2 separate regions of the Homo sapiens genome follow, and region 1 is linked to region 2. A link means that fine-mapping ties the variant in region 2 to the expression of a gene that starts in the linked region. Tissue or cell type: whole blood. Region 2 holds a variant in brackets; the other region holds the start of a gene. All regions are shown on one strand. Distances are from middle to middle. Region 1 holds the start of ITPK1 (inositol-tetrakisphosphate 1-kinase). Region 2 holds the start of ITPK1-AS1 (ITPK1 antisense RNA 1).

What was found. PIP is the estimated chance that this variant, and not a neighbour inherited with it, causes the effect.
Region 1: ITPK1 starts here. The variant in region 2 is fine-mapped to the expression of ITPK1 in whole blood (TOPMed, PIP 0.98).

The regions. Positions count from the first base shown.
Region 1 is chr14:93,111,027-93,119,026 of GRCh38, reverse strand. ITPK1 (inositol-tetrakisphosphate 1-kinase) reads left to right here and starts at 3,102. Exons shown (of 11, transcript NM_014216.6): 1 at 3,102-3,255; 2 at 3,722-3,958. The coding sequence starts at 3,864.
Region 2 is chr14:93,061,691-93,070,140 of GRCh38, reverse strand. All of the region lies in intron 3 of ITPK1 (inositol-tetrakisphosphate 1-kinase), which reads left to right. ITPK1-AS1 (ITPK1 antisense RNA 1) reads right to left here and starts at 2,689. Exons shown (of 1, transcript NR_002808.2): 1 at 1-2,689. The variant A/G (reference allele first, on the strand shown) is at 4,472.

The DNA of each region.
Region 1 (8,000 bases), 49 kb before region 2:
CGGTGAAACCCCATCTCTACTAAAAATACAAAAAATTAGCCGGGCGTGGTGGCGGGCGCCTGTAGTCCCAGCTACTCAGGAGGCTGAGGCAGGAGAATGGCATGAACCCGGGAGGTGGAGCTTGCAGTGAGCCGAGATTGCGCCACTGCACTCCAGTCTGGGCAACAAAGCAAGACTCCGTCTCAAAAAAAAAAAAAAATACAAAAATTAGCTGGGCGTGGTGACACGTGCCAATAGTCCCAGCTACCGGGAGGTCAAGGCAGGAGAATCGCTTGAACCCGGGAGGTGCACTGGACTCCAGCCTGGATGACACAACAAGACTCCATTTCAAAAAATAAAATAAAATAAAATAATAAAATAAGATAAAATAAAATAATATTAAGAAAAAAAAAGAACTTCATCCAGCTCCTGTTCAGAAGTGACCACACACACACTGTCTTCAGCATCCCTCCCAAGTTCCCCTGGTCCATTTCTCAGGCCTCATCTTCCTGCCCATCTCCATCTTACCGTGCCCTTATTTACGGTGTTCTTCCCTTTTCACCCTCTGAAACTTCGCACCTGTTTTCGCCTTTGCCTGGAATGTTGCCTCCTTCCCCCACTGAACTCCTTCCTACTCATCCTTCAAGATCCTATGCCACAGTCTCCCCAGTCATGCAGCAAAATGGGACAGATTGCCATCTTCCTTCCCATTTCCCTCTCAGCTCTCACCCCACGTTTCCTTTTTTCTTTCTTTTTTTTGTTTTTGAGATGGAGTTTTGCCCTTGCCGCCCAGGCTGGAGTGCAATGGCGCGACCTCGGCTGACCGCAACCTCCGCCTCTCTGGTTCAAGCGATTCTCCTGCCTCAGCCTCCCAAGTAGCTGGGATTACAGGCATGCGCCACCATGCCCACCTAATTTTGTATTTTTAGTAGAGATGGGGTTTCTCCATGTTGGTCAGGCTGGCCTCGAACTCCTGATCTCAGGTGATCCGCCTGCTTCGGCCTCCCAGCGCCCAGCCTCATCCCGTGTTTCTAATCAATGGCTTGTGTCCATTTTCCTCTGCCACACACTGGGCTCTCGTGTGTTTGCCAAAGGAGTGAGGGAATTCCAGGAACCCTCCTGAACCACCCAGCCTCAACTGGTCTTTCAGTTCCTAAGAACAGCAGGACATTTAAAGTCGATGCCTGTAATCCCTACTGCTGACTTCAAGTATCAAGTTTATAGTTGCTGCCCCCATCCCCTTCGTTTTTACTCCCTTAGCCGCCTTCTTTTTTTTTTTTTTTTTTTGAGACGGAGTCTCACTCTGTTGCCCAGGCTAGAGTGCAGTGGCACGATCTCAGCTCACTGCCAGCTCTGCCTCCCAGGTTCACGCCATTCTCCTGCCTTAGCCTCCCAAGTAGCTGGGACTACAGGCGCCCGCCACCACGCCCGGCTAATTTTTTGTATTTTTAGTAGAGACAGGGTTTCACCGTGTTAGCCAGGATGATCTCAATCTCCTGACCTCATGATGTGCCCACCTCGGCCTCCCAAAGTGCTGGGATTACAGGCATGAGCCACCATGCGCAGCCTCCCTTAGCCTTCTTTTATCCATCTTGTGCCTCGGCCCTAGGGGTCCTTGCTATGATCTTCCCTTTATCCAGCTTTCCATGTCCCCCCCAGGAGCCAGGCATTCTAAGCCACAGAGCTGACCCTGGAACCTGTCACCACTTACCTTCTAGGCTCCCATGGCCTATGAAACTCGCAGTACCCTTGCCTAAGGCATGCAGTGCCCGTCCCTAGCTGGCCCCCTGGAGGAGTCCTGTTTCCCACCCATCGTCTTTTCCACTCTCCATCCATCCGTTTTCTCTACCTTGTTAAAGAAAAAAACTAATCAGATTCTCGTTAAAGATGGCAGGGAAGCCAGGCGGGGTGGCTCAGGTCTACAATCCCAGCACTTTGGGAGGCCCAGGTGGGAGGACAGCTTGAGGCCAGGAGTTCGAGACCTGCCTGGGCAACACAGTGTAGTCCCAGCTGCTCGGGAGGCTGAGGTGGGAGGATCAGTTTAGCAGGGGTGTTCGAGGCTGCAGTGAGCTATGACTGCACCATTGCACTCCAGCCTGGGCAGCATAGAGAGATCCTTGTCTTTCTTTTTTTTTTGAGACGGAGTTTCTTAATGTAGGCCGGCCAGGGTGATCACATACCAAGCGTGGAGATATTCTTGACAGCAGGATTCTGGCTAAAACTGGACTAAGAAGGCCAAGGACAGAGCCCAAGGTCGGGGCCTGGTCAGAAAGAGGTCTCGGAGGAGCCTGACTCAAGTGTGATCAAGGGAAGTCTTGGTCACCCGCTGGCAACTTGGCTTTTTCTTGTCTCCCAGCCTCAATTCAAGCTCATCCCCCTTCCCTGCTCCATCAAAATCTCCTTGATTTCCAAGGCCAGCTTCAGTGTCTCCTCTCAAACTTTTCTGAGCCTTCCCTCCACGGGAATCCATTTTTCCTGCCTGGGCCTGGGGAGAGAAGTCCATTTCTCCTTCCCAAACCCAGAGACCATTGAGGCAGGAAAGCTCCCTGGCTGCCCCATAGGGCAGGGCAGGGTAGGCGGGGTTTAGTGACTCCCCGGCGCCGACGCTGACCCGCACCCCTGAGGAAGGGGTCTCCGGGGACGGCCGCTGTTGTCGCTGTCGCCTCCAGTCCCCGCCCCTTCCCCCCTCAGTGAAGGGGACCTAGAGTGAGAACTGGTGGTCACGTCCTACGCCTAGGAGGGCCCCTGGGTGTTCACCCACCCCCCCGGGGGGCCCCATCCTGGGCCAGGGTCCGCTTCCTCGAGGGAAGGGGCGAATTCCTGGAAGGTCTCCTTCCGGGCGCAGTTGCAATGGATTGCCTTGGGGGTGCTGAACCCTGCTGGGGGTACAGAGACGTTTCCGAAACTCAGCGGCTCGGTCGCCCCCAAAGGCCAGGCGGAACACACGCCCACACCGCGGCTCCCTTCCCGAAGTAAGACCGCCGGGCCACGGCCGCCCCCAGGAAGCCCCGCGCCCCGCACCCCACACCCGGGGACACAAACAGGCGCCGGGTAGCCGCGAGGGCCGGCGCGGCGCCTTTAAGAGGCGGCGGGCGGCGCTGCCCCCTGGCGGCCGCCCCGCCGCTTCCTCGCCGCCGCGGGCTCAAGCGGGGCGGCCGGGCCAGCGCGGGGCGGCGGCGGGCAGGGGCGGCGAGTGCGCGGGCGCTCGCCGCCGCCCTTCTCGGCGGGCAGCGCGCGAGGACCAGGCCGAGGAGGAAGTGGCGGCGGCGGCGGCGGGTGAGGATCTCTGGCCGGGCCGAGTGGCCGCGTGCGCCCCGCCGGGGTCCAAGCGCGCCCAGGGGTTACGGCCCGGCTGGGAACATCAGAGGGCGAGGACCCGGGCGGGAGGAGGAGGGAGGAAGGGCTCGGAGGCCGCGCTTCTGCCGCCGCCTGAGGGCGTGTGGCTCGGGCCCGCGCGGCGGGAGGGCGGGCAGGGCGGGGGCGGTGTCTGCGGAGGCCCGGCTTCCCCTCCTGCGGGCCCTGGCCCCAGCTCCGACTCAGACTCAGGCTCAGCCGTGCCCCAGCCTCAGCCGGCAGGCCGGGCGGCGCGGCGCTCGCGAGCCGGTGGGCGGGCGGGCGAGCCCGCAGGCGGCGGGGGCGTGGGCGGTGGCAGCTTGGCCCAGCCAGTGGCCTTCCGCGCTGAGCGCCGCTCCCTCCTCCCGGCCGCCCGCCGCGCCCCGCCCCGCTCCGCTCCGCGCGGCAGGACTGCGCGCCCCAGCTCCGATCCCCGTTCCGCGTCCCCGCCGCCGGGAGGAGGTGCCCACTCGCTCGCGGCGCGCGCCGGCCGCCAGACTCGGCCTGTGGGCGATTTCCTCCGGACCCAGGCTCCCCGCCCGAGGAGGAAGATGCAGACCTTTCTGAAAGGGAAGAGAGTTGGCTACTGGCTGAGCGAGAAGAAAATCAAGAAGCTGAATTTCCAGGCCTTCGCCGAGCTGTGCAGGTAAGGAGGGACGCGGCGCCGGCGCCCGGGGACCCCCGGCCCGAGCCCGGTGACCCCCGGCCCGAGCCCGGTGCAGCCTCATTAGTTGTTTTGGGAGATCGGAGCCAAACGGGAAGAAGCGGCGCGCGGGGAGACTGAGTCCGAGCAGCCAGGTGGCGGTGGCGGCCGCCGGCCGCGTTCCAGGGAAGCGGTGGCCGGTGCGGGCGAGGTGGCACGGACCGGGGCGTTCAGGTGCACTGTGACCCGGCTGGGGAGGCCCCCAGCAGCCCAGGGCGCGGTGGGAGTTCTACTGAGGGTTGCGGAGGGACCTGGGAAATCGGGGCATCCACGCTGTGGGGTAAGGGCTTGAGGGTACTTTTGGACCGGAGTGTTTTTCTTCCTTCGTCCCCTTCCCTTTCATGAAGAAAGGGCACCCACGTTTGTGGACCACCTACTATGTGCCCCGCGTGTGCTCGGCTCTTGAGGCTGTCATTGCATATCATGAGGTTAAGCCCAGTTGAAGCGAGTAGCAATTCTTGGCATGTATGTGGTGATTTGCTGTCTCATTAGAGCCTCGCAGCAGCCCTGCAAATTGGCCAGGGTGGTGATTCTGGGCCACCTGTCTGAGAACGGGGACCGATCGGCAGAGGAGCGGGGTACCTAGCTTGGGGTCCCGCAGCTAGGGAGTGGCTGGTGCGTAGAAAGTGCTGGGTAAATGCCCGTGGTGTGGAGTGGCCTTCTGCCATCTGGGCTGTGTGCCCCTGCTCCCACCATGCTGGTGCTCCTTGGCGGAGTCTCCGGTGTTTAACAGATCACGTTCTTAATAAATTACAGAACTACTGAGTCTTGGGTCAGGTAGGCCTTCCCTTGCTCCACAACTGTAGCTTTGCCTCTGAGAAGCAGTTAAGCCCTTTTCTCAATGCAAGCCTAAGAGAATCTAGCTCTGAAAGCCTTTTGCAAACTCCAGGTGGAAACCTTTTGTGATGCAGCTTGTTAGACTGATTTTTGAAAATGGGCTCTACTTGCATTTTTGTCCCTGTGGGGGCCCCACACATCTTGGAGAATTGAACAGTTGGGTTTCCGTAACCCCTGGTGCTCCTGGGGGCCCGTGGCTGGTCTGAGCTGGCATGCGCAGGTGAGCCTGGCAGCACCTCTGTGTGCCTCATGCCTTTCCCAAGGGCCTGCTGCTCCTTTGCCCCGTGCAAGCCCCGCAGGCGCTCTTCCTGCAGCCAGAGGGGCACAGCTTGTACAGGATAGTGCCTGGTTCTTTATCCCTTGGTCTGGGGATGGGGTTGGCTGCCTTCTCCCAGGCCGGTTTCCCTAGAAGACAGGCTCTTCATGATCAATAGGGCATGCAGAGTGGCCCCAGCAATTCATGAAGAAATCAGGAGGAGCTCGAAGCCAGAGCTTTGAAAATGAGTCTTAGGACCCTTGGAACATTACAAAAGGGTACTTGAACGTTGTACCGCGGATACACTCACTTGTGGGAAGGGCATTCTAAGACACTAAAGAAATTTGGAGCAGCTGCTTTGGCATGTTCTCGAAGTCCAGTTCTGATGTGAGGCACCGGAGCTCCCCCTGCAGTCATGTAAGACTTGGGAAATCCCAGCGAATACCTCGCACCCTTTGTACTGCTGTCTGTATTTATGTCATCTTGTGTCTGCAACTCAAGCTTGAGGCTTGTCATTGGGTTGGCTTGTTTTGCTTGGTAATTAGGAGGCTCTCGCAAAATATTCTTCGCCGAGACTCACAACTAGGTCCTCGTGCTGGACCTGCAGATTGGCTTGACCTTGTAGACATTCTTCCTTTAAAGGGGTGGGAGGTTCAGAGCAAGCTATGCTATCAACGTTCTGGGGAGTAGAGCATTACTTTCTCTGAAAGAGTTGTTGTCTTCAAAGTCTAGTTGCCTTCCTTTGGCCAAAATATTGGCTTCAAAGAAGGCAGAAGTCATCAGGGCCATTCTAGAACCCGAGGAAGCCCACTTTGTGTTTTCACTAGGGAAGCTTTAGATATTTTATCACTTAAGCCTAAGAAGGAAAAGAAAACACCAAAGAGTTTTTCCGTTTCTTATTTATTACTTTCAGGGCAGTGCCCCCTGGTGGCCACATTTCTATACTGGCTGCAAAATGCTGCAACTGTTGAGCCAGTGACCAGGGAGCCCCGTGAGGTTGTTTTGTTTGGTGTGAGGGCCAATGAGACTTTAGTGGCTGAGAGACAGTGCAAAGGACATTATCATGTTTTCCACATTCAGAATCTGGGGGCGCAGGGCTTCTGTACTGACGACGGGTGATGAATTGTCTATGAATTCCCTAATGAAAAAGTCTAAAGGTATTTGAAAATGGCCCTGCTTTGGGCCGGGTGCCGTGTCTTCTGTCTGTAATCCCAGCACTTTGGGAGTCCAAGGTGGGTGGGTCACGAGGTCAGGAGATCGAGACCATCCTGGCTAACATGGTGAAACCCCATCTCTACTAAAAATACAAAAATTAGCCGGGCATGATGGCAGGCGCCTGTAGTCCCAGCTACTCAGGAGGCTGAGGCAGGAGAATCACTTGAACCCGGGAGGCAGAGGTTGCAGTAAGTCGAGATGGTGCCACTGCACTCTAGCTTGGGTGACAGAGCGAGACTCCATCTCAAAAAAAAAAAAAAAAAAAATGGCCCTGCTCTTAATGTTTGGGCAAAGAATGACCCGAATGGTCCGGCCCGGGGTGGGTTGTTTAGCTGAATGTCCGGCCTTGTAAAAATCTGATCTCAGAGCAGGAAGAGATGTTGGCCATCATCTCATCTAGCCCCTTTGTCTTACAGATGGGGAAACCCATCAAGAGAGGGGGCAGGTTCCGGACTCTTGGTCTTTTCCTTTAACTTCTAGAATGGGTCCAACCTGGCTACCTTGAGATTGCCTTTCTGATTGGGCATCTCCGACAATAAGGCAGTCTCCCTCATTATCTTTCCAGGGGTCTGGTGGCTGCTATTTAGCCCCCAGGACACATTCCTTGCAAAGCTGAGCCCCTCTGCAAGTGTAATCCTTGTCTTGGGGGGAGGGTTTGGGGGGTAGTGCACGTTGATGGCAACAGTGGGTGGTTAGAGCCACTTCATGGGCCATGAAGTGCCCCACCTGCCGTAGGTAGGGACAGGCGCCAGCCTTTTCAGATGTGCACTCTGATAGGATGGGGCTCTGCTAGCCAGCAGATGGGCCTTTGAATCCACTTGTTTGTCAGTGGTACTGTTTGTTCCTGTTGCCATCCTGTTTCTTCCCCTTTCTCTGGGGACACGGCTCTGGTTGTGTTCTCTTGTACCCCTCCCACCTGCCTTCCCTAGCCTGGGAGCAACCTTGTAGGTCTCCCACACCACCCCCTCTTTGTGGCTTTTTTTTTTTTTTTTTGAGGTGGAGTCTCGCTTTGTCGCCCAGCCTGGAGTGCAGTGGCGCAATCTCGGCTCACTGCAACCTCCGCCTCCCAGGTTCAAGCTATTCTCCTGCCTCAGCCTCCTGAGTAGCTGGGATTACAGGTGCGCACCACCACGCCTGGCTAATTTTTGTATTTTTAGTGGAGATGGAGTTTTACCATGTTGTCCAGGCTGGTCTCGAACTCCTGACCTCAGGTGATCCGCCTGCCTTGCCCTCCCAGAGTGCTGGGATTACAGGCATTCCTGGCCTTTGTGGCTTTTTCTAGATGCTCAGAAGGGGCTTCAGAGGGGGAGTGAAGAAATTAAAGCTGTTAGTTGGAAATACTGGGTGATATTAATTTAATTTTAAATTTTGTAGTTCTGTACAGTGCCTCACTGGGGAATACTGGCTGGCCCCAGTTTCCTCAGCTCATGTTTTCTGTGCCTCCTCCTCTCCTCCTCTCTGTCCCATTCTTTCTGTGGCTGAACCTACGTTGCAGGAGGTGGGGGCGGAAGAGGCACATGACTTGGTGAAGCTTTCCATATAAAATTTGGGTGAACCTTATCTGTCTTTACTGTAATAATTGCTGATTTTTAATGAAGTGCTTCCAGGGACCTCATCTCATTTAATCCTTCCAGCAGCCCAGGGATGGAGGGATGAGGGATGGAGGGATGAGGGATG
Region 2 (8,450 bases):
AGATCGGGGAGAAGGTGACTGCTGGCATGAGGGGACTCGAGGTTTGACTTTAAAGTGCGAATGAGCAAGCTGTAAGTGTGAGAAGTGCAGCAGCCAGTTAGAGATTCACTGTCCTCCATCCACATTCCTTGAGAATTCAGACACTATGAAACCCAGTCTCTGGTGCGGCGGCTGTTTCTCAAGCAGGCAAGGAAGTAAGTAAGTTCTCCCGGCTTGCGAATGAGTGAATGGTGGGCATACGTCTTTCTGTCCGTGTTTTCTCCAGAGCTGGTGCTGGCTGGCTTGCTGGTGACCTTTGTATATGTGTTTTTACCCCTTCCTGCACCAGACTTTCAGGGAAGGAGGTTGGGTGGGTGACCATCAAACCACCAAGAAAAGGCAAGTCTGAGAAAGAGACACTAAGACCCAAGGGAAGGTCCATGTGCCTGGGGCCGAGGCAGAACTGGGTGCTGGGCCTCTGGAGGCGAAGGAACTGTGGGGATGCCCACTGGCAGGGAAACCGTGGGGATGCCCAAGCCCAGGGGCAGGGCAGGCCTGTCTGAGCTGTGGGGGAGTGGTGAGGACGCAAGGCTGGGCATGTAAGGAGGAGTGGGCCATCAGGGGATGGAGGCCATACCTCCTGACATGGAATAAACTGGGCGTAGGGGCTGGCAGGAGGCGAGGTGTTAGAATGGCCTTACAGACAAGGAGCATGGCCAGGGCCACACACAGCAGCTGGGGAAGGGGGTCCTTTGGCTGCCAATGGCTTGGAAAGGCTACAGCCCCAGGCTTGAGGGGGCTAGTGAGAGACCAGGCTGGAGAGAGTAGCGGTGCCAGGTGAGTTGTTCATGGGGTGCTGTGTCGGGGGCATGGAGGGGCTTCTGCAGGCGAAAGCTGGGTGCTCCAACCTGAGGCTATGGGGGAAGAGCCATGGGGAGGATACATGGAGGGTGATTAGACAGGGCTGCACTGGAAAGCAGACAGCAGGGTTTTCTGAGAGGGGCTGTGGCTGCAGCCTAGTGAGGGGTGATGTGCTCTCCAGGGGCTCCTGCAGTGACAGAGGGCAGCAGGAGACAGATGGCAGGGTGTGGTACCTGGGTAGATGTGGGAGGTGAGAGGGGGAGGATCAGTCCCCAGACTCCTCCCTTGTTTCTGGCCGGAGTGCCTGGGCATGGGGGTGCAGGAGGAGCAGCCGCCAGGGAGGGAAAGCCCATGCCAGCACTGGCGCTTTCCGATAGGTGTGCTGAGTGCAGGCAGCGGAGGCCTGTGTTGGTAGCTGCTCTCGGAATTCAGAGCCAGAGGGGACTCACGTGGTTGCGTGGTGTGCATCTCTGGAAGGATTATAGGTGCTAAATTCTCCATCTCAGCATTAAAAATGTACTTGTTATTTAGGTTATATTTTTACATGGTACCAACATTTTTTTAAAAGGTATGCTGAACACAGTGTCAAATGATCAATCCACAGCGGGGTTCCCTCTGCCACCCATACTCTCCAGCGTACCCCAGCTGGCTGACCCCGGTGCTCTTGATGGATTTTATTTCCAGGTCACTGGGGCATAGGTAGGGGTGGACACCTGTGAACATCCTTCCTTCTGTCGATTTTCTCTGCCGTGTGCTGTGGAGCCAAGCGTAAAGGGCTTTGGGAATAACAATCGCTGTGGGGTTCTGACGTCTTTGGAGCTGGGACAGCCCATGGTAGACTTGCGGTCCACCCATATCCTGGGCAGTGGCTTTCTGAAGTTCACGTGAGCCTGACTCTGACCTCTCCCCAGACCCCATCATCTCCAAGGAGGACCGCCACGGGCTTGGGGGGCTGGCTCTGCACACAGTGTTTCCATGTGGTCATTTGAGGCCAGTAATGGACACAGATTGCTCTTGGCTGTGCCTCACTTCCCTGTGGGGTCCAGAGACCTGGGTTTGAGTTTCTGAGTCTGTTTCCTGGCTGTGGATCTTTTCCTTCCTCTTTAAAGGGATGACAGCGCACAGGATTGAAGACACCTAAGAGATGCTGAAGGAATATTAATTGATTTTTACTCATCTGTTGTTATGATTAATGGTGGCATTTCAGTGGGGAAAATACAGCTACAGATGAAACTGGGCTGTTGAGAAAGATACATTGTTTCAGTGTGGAGAATATAGTATTTTTTTTTTTTTTTTGCCTCCCCTCTGTATCACTTTTGGGTTTCTAACAATTGTGGATTCCAGCTTACTCCTTCCTTTTTTAAAAGATAGATTTTATGGTTTTTTTAAAAAATTTGAAATGCAGGTATTTTTTTCCCCCTAAACATTGACAATTATTTTCATTCTCCATCATTTACTATTTGCTTAGGCTATGTAGATAACAAATAAGACAAAGTTATGTGAAAGCATGATCCCCATAGTGTTTTTTAATAATGATGATACATGAGGTGCTGGGAAGGGTTATATAAATGAGGTCTGCTCATAGCAGTTCTCCAATGTGGCCATTAAAAAAAAATCACATTTTTCACATTTTGGAAGACAGCGTGGGGAAATGCTCGTGAGTTGCTTTGAGTACTGTCGTCATACTCTGAGTGGTTTCATTTCTATCCGTTTTATTTTGGTTCCTGAGCTTTTTAGGTTTGCTGTTAGAAATAGAAGCTGTCACCGTGTTGCAGTCTTGTGCAGCTTCCGAAGCCTGTGGCACTCAGTTCTAGGGTGATTCTTTCTCCAGCCTTTGATGCACTGAGTCAATTTGAGCAAATCCTTTAAAAAAAAAAAAAAGTTCCCACATCCCATGTCAAGACAACAGAGCTCTGCCAGGGCAGGTGGGGCTCCCTGTGCTCCAGGGTGCCTGGGTGCCTTCTTGCAGGCAGGCTTCCAGAACCCCAGGCCCTCCTCACCACACCACGCAGGGTTGGGACTGGATCTCCCTGGTACCTGCCACCCTTGCTTGGCTGTCAAATGTCAAGAATTCCGTGGCCTCAGTGGAGCGTGCCAGGTAAGCATTTTACGTAAAAGCAAAGAAAAGAGATGGAATGAAGTACACAGGGGAAATAGGAAGGGATGGAACGGGGGTTTTAGAAAGGGCCAGAAGCAAGATTCTGCTCTTAAAGTAGCTGACTGTCCTGGCATTCTGGGGTGAAGGTATCCATAGCATTGCTACTCAGAGTGTGATCCTAGGGAATCTGGGTGCAGATGGAGAAACTCGGATGCAAACACTGGATTCCTCAGCAGTCGGTTCCCGTTTGGCCTGGTGCAGGGCTGAGACTCTGAGGAGGAGGCATCTTGACCTGAGGGCCCTGGACTGTGCTCCTTGTCCAGCTGGGCGCAGAACCATCGTAGTCAAAGCCAGGAATGGAGATGCATTGCCTCAGGTCAGTTCCAAAGACCAGGAAGCGTCCCTGAGTATTTCAGTTGAGTAAGGACCTGGCATCTCCCTCTTCAGCCCCTTCCCTGCTCTCATATTTTTATTCATGCTTTTAGAACTGCTAAATGTCAGGTGGGTGCAGTGGCTCACACCTGTAATCCCAGCACTTTGGGAGGCCGAGGCGGGTGGATCATGAGGTCAGGAGATCGAGACCATCCTGGCTAACACGGTGAAACCCTGTCTCTACTAAAAATACAAAAAATTAGCTGGGCGTGGTGGCAGGTGCCTGTAGTCCCAGCTACTCAGGAGGCTGAGGCAGGAGAATGGCGCGAACGCGGGAGGCGGAGCTTGCAGTGAGCCGAGATCGCGCCACTGAACTCTAGCCTGTGACAGAGCAAGACTCCGTCTCAAAAAAAAAAAAAAAAAGAATTGCTAAATGTCACCTTGGCAGTGACACCTACCCTGCTTTCCCAGCAGACGCCTCTGCCCCCTACACACACACACACACACACATACACACACACACATGCACGCGCACACACGCACGCACACCAAGCTGAGCTGCCTGTTGGTGTGTCCTCCTGAGGCTGGGACTTGCTGGTCTCTGAGGAGCACGTGGTCTGGCCCTGATGTGCGCTGTGTCTACTGGGTGAGTGAATTAAGGACTGAGGTATTGTGCTACACAGGATGTGGCCAGGCCTCGAGGGTCTGTGCTTGCTAAAAATAACTCTAGATTATTCTTTTGCTCATTAAGTAATATGTACTTGTGGAAATCTTGGGAAGTCAAGATAGGCTCACAAATGAAAACCCAGAGATAATTATTGAAGCAATTTTTACATAAAATATGCTCCTTTTTCTATATGATGTGCATTCAGGTTAGGCTTTTCTGTGTCCCTAGTTTTGCCACTTGCATTTGGGGGAACAGTTGAGCATTTGCCTGTGCCATTTAAACACCTTGGAAATTGCTGTTAGAGTGGCTGCACCAGCTTCCCACCATCCCTATGTCCCAGCATCTAGAACCATTTCTCTGCTCCAGAGTCTCAAGTTCTAGGTTATTTCTGGTTTGCTGTTACTAACAGTCCTGCCCTGGGTGTCTCTGGACCTAAATCTTTGGGGACCTAAGTCACATCTCAGGCTGTTTCATTGGGTTATGGTCTAGAAGTG[A/G]CTTCAGGATTTTGTTGCTAAAGAAGAAGGGGAGAATGGGGGACAGGTTGGGCTGCAGCTAGTCAGCTGTGTCCAGCACACTTGGGCCCTGGACTTAGAACTGGACAGGTTACTTGCCCCCTCTAAGCCTCAGTTTATTCTTCTGTAAAATGGAAATAATAATGGACCCAGTCTCATAGAGTTCCAGGAGTGAGGTCATGCAGATAAGGAACAGCACAGAACCTGTTTACCTAGTTTGTCCTCAGAAGGAGCTGTTTGTGATTATTTACTGGTGCCACCTCCACCACCATCATTGTCATCCTCAGTGGCCCAGGGAAGCGTGAGTCTGAATGAGGTGTGTTGTGTAGTTAAATGATGCGATGGGTAGATGAGCCAAAATGAAAGGATCTCTTCTGTTTGATTTATTTTCATGAGTAAAAAAGCCAGAAATGTCTGTAGCATAAGTTATGTCTGTTTGGTTTGGCTAAAGCAGGGCTGACCAGGGATGAGTCTCCTGCTGTGAGTGAGTGAGGTCCCAGCTTGTCCTCTGGGGTTAGAGCAGATTTTGCTCTGGCTGGGGTGCATTTGGGGGCATGGGCTGATTTATGTTTTCCTTCTTTCTGGATCTCCCCAGGTCTAGCCATGATGGGGTGAAGGCATCACCCCCAGGGAGTGCTGACCCCTGACCCTAGCCCCATGACCCCCTCCCGTGCTAGTTCATTATGGGCAGGGGAGGTCCCAGGGATTCCCCGCACACTCATCGTGACTTTTCCAAAAGCTGTGTAAATCCAGAGTTGTAACTTGGCTCTGTCTTTCTCCTTCCCCTTGATCCACCCTCAGCTCAAGAACTCCCCTGGGAAGCACAGTGGCTCCCGTCTTTGCCTCAAGTTCTCTGATGTTCTGCACAAATGGTAGGCAGAGACAGCCCTTTCAGGGACCTGATTGCCCTGGTGTCTAGTTCTCCTTTCACAGGCCTGTTTTCCAGCTCGACTGTCAATCTGAGTCTTTCTCTTTTTGAGCTTTATGCAATGGCCTTAGAGTATACCCTATAAGGAGATCCCGGCTTGCTGGTGCCCGGCCCTGCAGCTGTGTCCCAGAAACTTGGCGGTGGTGCATGGGGCTCACTCAGCACTTCTACAGAAGCCGCCTGGGGTGGCTCCCAGGGTTCCGGTGGGAATGGGGTACAGAGGCCTGAGAGGGGGCTTTGATCAGGTGTCCTGGGGGAACATTTAGAGCTCCTGGATTCTCTGCAGGAAGGCCACCAGCAGCCAGGCATGATGGCCTGTGTCTGTAATCCCAACACTTTGAGAGGCCAAGGCAGGAGAATTGCTTGAAGCCTGGAGTTCAAGACCAGCCTGGGCGACATAGTGAGACCCCATCTCTACGAAAATTTTAATTTTTATTTTTTGAGATGGAGTCTCGCTCTGTCGCCCAGGCTGGAGTGCAGTGGCGCGACCTCGGCTCACTGCAAGCTCTGCCTCCCACGTTCACGCCATTCTTCTGCCTCAGCCTCCCAAGTAGCTGGGACTACAGGTGCCCGCCACCACGCCCGGCTAATTTTTTGTATTTTTGGTAGAGACAGGGTTTCACCATGTTAGCCAGGATGGTCTCAATCTCCTGACCTCGTGATCCACCCACCTTGGCCTCCCAAAGTGCTGGGATTACAGGTGTGAGCCACCATGCCCGGCCAATTTTTTTTTTTTAAAGGTCACCAGCCCTGTTGTCTGGGCAGTAAGCACCTAGTAGGATTGCTTCAGAGTTCTAGAATGCGCATGTAAAAATTCCAAAGTGCGTTTGGCGTCTGGGCTGGGCTTCTATGAGCAGCCCAGGCAGCAGCAGTGAGAACTCCTGTGTGTGCCTCGTCTACTGAGTGCCAGGGTTAGTGCCCCACTTGCCAGGTGAGAGGACTGAGGCTCACACAGGTGGGCTTGTCACAGCCTAGCATGTGAGCTGTGGAGCTGGGATTGGATTCTAGAGGTGTGATGGCATAGCCAGTGCCTCTTCTGCTCCGAAGACTGCCTGCCTGGTGAGAGTCCAGTGACTCCTCCCTAGTTCCAGCTCCATCCCTCCAAGGCTGTGCAGTCCTGGGTAGTGGCACAACCTCTCTGAGGCCCATCTACCAGATGGTGATGAGATGGATGATTGAGACGAGGGGAGGGCAAGTGAGAAGGCCTTCTAAAACTCAGGCCCTCGTAGGAGAAGCGTGGGTAGCCTGAGGTCAGGGACAGGGCTTAGTGTGCTGTGTGGGGCTGTGGGGAGTGGGAAGCTCACTGGTTTTCTGGCTCCTGAGATGACTCGAGGGGTCTTGTGAAGCTCACACCCCTGTCTCACTGGGCAGGAGTTTGGCCTCCACTGTGGGTCTCTGCCATCTCAGGTGGGTGGGGGACCAGGGGTCCCTGGGCAGGAGGGTGTGGGTCCTGGCTTGGAGGCAGACCTTGGCTCACTCCCTTCCTTGCCCAGGCAGTATTTTTGCCGCAGGCCCTGCCAAGTAGAAATAAGTTATTTACAGTGTTTTGACAGGATCATCGGCAGCCGGGATGGGCAAGGATGCCTTTGGGACTGAGCTAATGGCCAAGGAGTGGGGCTTGGAGAAGGGTCTGGCGTGGGAGAGAGATGGGAGATGGGGGTGGGGTGGGGGCGCACATTTACTGAACTTGTTAAATCTTGACAAATGCCAGGCCTGGCCCTCCCTTAAGCCAGGGCTTTGGGGCCTGGTGAGGGCAGGACTTGATGAGTTTTCCTGTCGACCAAATATTCCGCCGGATCGCTCAGGACCCTCGGTTATTTTTGCTGTCTGAGCCCTCAGTGCCTTCCTTTGTCCATCAGGGACAAGGACCCCTGCCCACCCAGTATATCTTCTTGGGGAGAAGATGAAACGCCTTGGTGTATGGTAGGCCAGGCCCTGGCCTTGACTGTGAGCCTGGCAGCCCCTGCAGCCCCTCACACTGGGCCACCATTGACCTGCTTTACGACTTCAAATAGCACAGACCTGCCGTGGGACCAGGGCCTCCTGCTAGTGCCTGACCTCTGTCCTGCATGATGTTCTGACCCTCCAGAAGCAGGTTTGAAAGTGCCTTTCAGGAAGGTCTGGAGAGCCTCCTGTGTAGCTTGTGGGAACAAAATGTGTTACTCCCTAGCCGAAGGATAACCAGCACACTAAAATGTGAATAAAGTGTGACTTTATTCATGTCCTTTGAGCATAAAAATGGCACACACACTGATGCATTAAAAAAACTTTTTTTTTTAATTAAACTTTTTTTAGAGATGGGGTTTTGCTCTGTCACTCAGGCTGGAGTGTAGTGGTGCGATCATAGCTTGCTGCAGCTTTGAACTCCTGGGCTCAAGCAATCCTCCCACCTCAGCCTTCTTAGTAGCTGGGACCATGGTGTGCACCAACATCTTTGATGCAGTTTTTTTTTTGAGATGGAATCTCGCTCTGTCGCCCAGGCTGGAGTGCAATGGCTCGATCTTGGCTCGCTGCAACCTCCGCCTCCCAGGTTCAAGCGATTTTCCTGTCTCAGACCCCAGAGTAACTGAGATTACAGGCACGCGCCACCATGCCTGGCTAATTTTTGTATTTTTAGTAGTGATGGGGTTTCACCGTGTTGGCCAGGGTGGTCTTGAACTCCTGACCTCAAGTGATCTGCCCGCCTCGGCTTCTAAAAGTGTTGGGATTACAGGCGCGAGCCACCAGCCTTGACATAGTTGTAAACAAAGTTGTGGTTCTGTTGTAATCTGTTCCCACAAACACACTTAGCATTCTCTTAGAGCTTCCCCCTTTGTTAAATGTCTACTTAGGCTTGCTTTTTAAATGACTGCATAATATTATCTGATTGTAACTGAAGTTCTTTGATTCCCTTGGTTGATGCTGACCATGGTTCTGGTCTGTCACCTTTATAAATAGTATTGTGATAAACATCCACTTTTGATACTGTTTGGGCAAGCCTGTGATGATTATTTCTTTGGGTTACATAAGTAAGTTGTATATATTGTTTTTGTA